2 separate regions of the Homo sapiens genome follow, and region 1 is linked to region 2. The links come from fine-mapping of genetic effects on gene expression. A gene starts in region 2. The other region holds a variant in brackets. All regions are shown on one strand. Distances are from middle to middle.

Region 1 (2,836 bases), 41 kb after region 2:
TAAAACAAATTCTATTAAAATATAAGTTCCTTTCTAGATCTTATGTGATTGCCGAGGAGAGAAATCTAGCACATGAAGTCTATAGAAAAGAATTAATTTCCAAAGTGACTGCTCTGGGAGCTGTGGCGAGGGTGTGTTTTGCTGGTGGAGTGTGGCAGGGATACTTTGTTTGGAAGGGCTGTGTTTGTTGTCTGCTTCCTTTCCATGAGAAATGATCACTGATTCACTCGCCAAAGCTCATGGAGTGATTTTGCTGACGTGTCACCTTTTCTTTTATGCCATTCTCCCTCTTTCTGACTTCTTCCCCTCAGACGGCCCCATCTCCAGGTTGCCCTACTTCATTTCCAGCCTCATTATCCATACTAGCTTTCTCAAGATAGTAGTCTCAGGATTAGGCCTACCTGTTTGGCCGTATGGTTACAAGTGCTCTGCTTAGAAAAGCCTTAGGTAAATATATCATGCTAAAGGTTATTGACTGACACCAGTCAGCTATGCCTGGCTCTGGAGTATTACCATTTTCACAAAGCACTATGAGTGGTTTAACCTCAGGGAATATTCTTTTTGTTTGAGGTAGCTGTATTGTTTTTGGTCCTGAAACCTGGACACTCATGGGCTAGTTTCAGCTTTGCCAGGTTAGACCACATCTCTAAAGTGTGTACCTCATTTTGAGACTGAATAAATATATGTTCGATAAAGAAGAAGCAGACTAGACAAAGAAAAGAGAATGTAGCATTGCTTGAATTACCTGATTTCAGAACCTTAAATAAATTTTGTTTTCAAAGAACAACTTGTGAAACTATTATTTCAGAAATCCTGCTTTGGGAAGTCCTAGACTAGGCTGTTTGTTCTTGGTTGAGGTGCTTAATTTCTCTGGGCTTTATTTCTGTCATCTACATATTGAGGGAAATGAAGTAGATAATTTCCAAGTGTCTTTAGGACTTCCAAATTCCTTCATAATGGAAAGGTTTCAGGCATCACCCAGCAAACCAGTAGAGGCTGGAGTGCAATGGCACGATCTTGGCTCACTGCAACCTCTGCCTCCCAGGTTCAAGCTATTCTTCTTGCTCAGCCTCCCAAGTAGCTGGGATTACAGGCCCCCACCACCATGCCCAGCTAATTTTTTTTGGTATTTTTAGTAGAGTGCAGTGGTGTTATCTTGACTCACTGCAACCTCTGCCTCCCAGGTTCAAGTGATTCTCCTGCCTCAGCCCCCCGAGTAGCTGGGATTACAGATGTGCGCCACCACACCCAGCTAATTTTTGTATTTTTAGTAGGGACAGGGTTTCACCATGTTGGCCAGGCTGATCTCAAATTCCTGACCTCGTGATCTACCCGCCTCGGCCTCCCAAAGTGCTGGGATTACAGGCGTGAGCCACTATGCCCGGCCGCCTTTCTACTCCTTCTAATCACACCATATAGTCCCACCTATCATGTGGCTGCAAAAAGGACAATCTCTCTACCCAGTGAGCGGCTCATGCAGCTTCAGATGCAGCATGGTCGCCCTTCGTGTGTGTGGCTGTTTTATTAGCCTGCCCCTGCCCCTTGGATAGCTGGTGTGCCCATCCTTCCAGGAGGACAGGTGAAGCATCAAGTGAGCACTTGGAGAGG[C/A]CCCTCCTGTCTCATACAATCGCGCTAGCTGACTCTGCTCTCAGGCAGGCTCCTATTTTTAGCTGTATCTGATGGAGGCACTGTCTTCCCAGCTTAATGATCCCTCTCAGGTGCCAGTGTGCCTCCAAACAGCTCTCTGGTGATCCAAAGGACAGGTGGGCACAGGCCCTGATATCATACAAAGAAGAGGCTGGGTGATATAGGGCAAAGTGAACACAATTGAGAAGCTGAGGCAGTATGACATCGTGCCCTCTCAAAGCCCTGATTTTCTTTCTGTAAAACAAGACAGGACGCTCTCCAAAGGCTTTCCCAGTTTTAAAGTTCCATCAAACTTCAGTTGTGAAGGGAGAGAACAGATGATTGAAGCGTCAAAGCCCAAGCAACTAAGACAGAGTCAAGCGATTACAAAGCAGACCATGAATGTTAGCTAGTAAATAGTCCACTCAGCTGTCTGGGTACAAGTGCTAAGGGATATTTAATTTTGGCATGCTTTTATTTTCTCAGGAGAAAAATAGCAGAAGGAAGTGCACATGCCATTTTATTCCATTGAAACTGCCAATGTGCTCAACTTAGGACTTACATGGGGTTAGCAACGTAGGGGCACACAAGTCAGTACTTTGTTAAACTGCTCCCCAGGCAGGGAATGTTGTGGGTTCAGGTCTAAAGAATGTAACAGTCTCAAGGACTTTGGTGTAGGAGCCACTTATGGTATCCAGTTCACTCCAGACTTTTGACACTGCCTGGGCCCTCTTCAGCAAACTCATCTCTCAGCAGGTGTGGGGCTTGGGGACAAAAAGTTCAGCCTGAAAGTGGAAAAAGAGTTCCAAAACATGCCGGGAAGGCTGAGGCCTAAGGGCTGAATATGTGTGTATCTGTCTATTCATGAGCCTTGGTTCTGTTTGCTGTGCCAGCTGGTAGAAACTATTTTTGTCTTTTCCCTTCAGGCTGCCGGAGTCTCCACTAGGGAGATTGGACTCTAACAGAGTAAAGGCCAGAGGGCCAGAGGAAATCACTCCCATTTGTTGCATTCCCCAGGGATATCTTTGATTTCCAGGCTTCATCCGCATTCTATACTTCTGCAGGATTCACTGTCCAGAGGAATCCAAGGGGAAGCCTGTAAATTGTATACCCTTTTTAGGGGCAGAATTAGATCATGTTTTCAGCTTATAGCAAATCAATAAACTGTTGCCCATGGCTAAGATTATGTGTAGCAGTCCTTATGCCTGAA
Region 2 (2,836 bases):
AATGAATTAGGTAGGGGATAAAGCCAAGTAATTCTGATTCAGATTAAAAGAGAAGACCAAACTAGTGTGATTATTTTTTTTCCCCCTCTGGCTTAAGCTGGCTTTTGAAAACAACAGTATGAGTAAGTTATATAACACTTTAAAAATCAGTGTCATAATTTTATATTTTACAGGTGGAATGTATATATATATTACAGGTGGAATATATATATACACACATATATGTATATTTTACAGTTGGAATATATACACATATATGTATATATACACATATACATATATGTATGTATGTATGTGTATATATGTATGTATGTGTATATATGTATGTATGTGTGTATATGTATACGTATATACATATATGTGTGTATATGTATACGTATATACATATATGTGTGTATATGTATACGTATATACAATGTATGTATATATGTATACATATACATACATATATACATGCATGTATGTATATGTGTATATATACATACATATACACATACATACACATATATGTGTATATGTATACACATACATACACATATATGTGTATATGTATACACATACATACACATATATGTGTATATGTATACACATACATACACATATATGTGTATATGTATACACATACATACACATATATGTGTATATGTATACACATACATACACATATATGTGTATATGTATACACATACATACACATATATGTGTATATGTATACACATACATACACATATATGTGTATATGTATACACATATACATATGTGTATACGTATACACGTATATATGTATACACACATACATACGTATAGATGTATACACACACATACATACGTATAGATGTATACACACATACATACGTATATATGTATACACACACATACGTATATATGTATACACACATACATACGTATATATGTATACACACACATATACGTATATATGTATATAGACACATATACGTATATATGTATATATACACACATATATACGTATATATGTATATATACACACATATATACGTATATATGTATATATACACACATATATACATATATATAATGTATATACACACACATATATACATATATAATATGTATATATACACACACATATATGTATGTATATTTTACAGGCTTAATTAACTTTCTTTTTCTTGTATAAAAACCCTATGTTGTAGCTACAGCTGGAGCCTGGGTCCTCTGCACGGAGACTCTGGTGTGGGTCTTGGCGAGGTGGTCAGTGAATTCTTGATAGGGACACTTGGTGAATACAGCCGTCCTCCAGAGGTCAGGGGTCAGGTAGCTGTAGGTCTTAGAGATGGCATCAAAGGTGGCCTTGGCGAAGTTGCTCAGAGTGGCAGTGCAGCCCCTGGCTGAGGTGTAGCAGTCATCGATACCAGCCATCATGAGCAACTTCTTGGGCACAGGCGCCGAGACGATACCGGTGCCTCTGGGCACGCGGATGAGGCGCACGAGCACGGAGCCGCAGCAGCCCGTCACCTTGCAACGGATGGTGTAGGGCTTGCCGATCTTGTTCCCCTAGTAACCTCTGCGCATGGGGACAATGGAGAGCTAGGCCAGGATGATGGCCCTGTGGATGGCAGTGGCCACCTCCTTGGAGCACTTAACACCCAGACCGACGTGACCGTTGTAGCCCGCAATGGCCACAAACGCCTTGAACCTGGTTCGCTGGCCGGCTCCGGTCTGCTTCTGCACCGGCATAATCTTCAAAACCTAGGCCTCGAGAGAGGCCCCCCAGGAAAAAATCAATGATCTCAGATTCCGTGATGGGCAGGGAGAAGAGACAGATCTCCTCCAGGGAAGTGATCTTCATGTGCTTGACCAGGCAGCCCAGCTTGCTGACGGGCATCCACTCCTTATCCTTGGCCTTGCCTCCGCGAGCTCCGTGGCTTCGGCCCCAGCCTGGTCCACGGCAGTGACCCCGGCCTCGGATGCCACTGCCGAAACCTCCACGGAAGCCACCATGGTTCCCCATCCCAGGGCCCCGGGGCCTCCGGGACTCCCCCCGCAACCCAATGCCGGCTGCGCCGGCGTCATCCGCCATTTGGTGTTTTCTCGGAGAAGAAGCTACATGTGGAATATATTAACGCAACAAATTGTGCGTACTTGCTAGACATTAGGCATGATAGCAAGTGCTAGGGTTACAAAGTATTGCTTTTTGGGGAACCCATGGTTGTTGGGGAGAAACCAGAAGATCAGTCATCACAGTGCGGCAAGATCAGACTTGTGGTTTGTTCAGGTTCTGGGAGCCGTCACTGCAGTGAGAATGGGTGAGTTGGGGCAGGCTGTGGTGTCTGGGAAATTTTAAAATAGAAGTGATACTTGAGCAAGAAGTTGAAGGATGAATATGGATTTATAGAATAAGCAGGGTGTAGAGACATGTGTGCATGTGTGTGTGTATTTCATAAAGAAAGACATGCATGTGCAAAGGCCTGGAGGCTGTTGATGTCAGCAGAATGTTCTGAGGAATGAGTAAGATGAAACAGATGAAACACTTAAAGGCATTTTTTCTCCATTAGTCAAGTCTAGGAGAGGCATTCAATGTCTAATGTCTAACTAGGGTTAGGATTTGAAGAATCTTTCTAAGATGTCTGGTCTTTTTTTTTTTTTCTTTTAGAGATGGGGTTTCACTGTGTTGCCTAAGCAGTGGCTATTCATAGGCACAGTTACAGCACACTGCAGTCTTGAACTCCTGGACTCAAACTATCCTCCTGCCTTGGCCTCCAAAGTAGCTAGGGCTACAGGCACATGTGACTGTGCCTGAGTAAGACGTCCCCTCTCAAAAGTCAGCAAATAAAAGGCAGCTTAGAGAAAGCCA

Which allele goes with the higher level. Positions count from the first base shown, and alleles are read on the strand shown. Sizes are in standard deviations (SD) of each study's normalised expression.
With allele A in place of C in region 1, the expression in testis of the gene that starts at base 1,488 in region 2 is higher (small effect, 0.14 SD a copy in GTEx).

What was found. PIP is the estimated chance that this variant, and not a neighbour inherited with it, causes the effect. A credible set is the group of variants that fine-mapping cannot tell apart.
Region 1: its variant is the best candidate, but not a certain one, in a credible set for the expression of LRRC52-AS1 in testis (GTEx, PIP 0.67).

The regions. Positions count from the first base shown.
Region 1 is chr1:165,539,848-165,542,683 of GRCh38, reverse strand. The region is part of intron 3 of LRRC52-AS1 (LRRC52 antisense RNA 1); the gene reads left to right. Among named protein-coding and RNA genes, the nearest start is that of LRRC52, 2.7 kb to the left of the region's middle. The variant C/A (reference allele first, on the strand shown) is at 1,609.
Region 2 is chr1:165,580,807-165,583,642 of GRCh38, reverse strand. It overlaps LRRC52-AS1 (LRRC52 antisense RNA 1), which reads left to right and starts at 1,488. Exons shown (of 7, transcript NR_026744.2): 1 at 1,488-2,288. It also overlaps the pseudogene RPS2P10.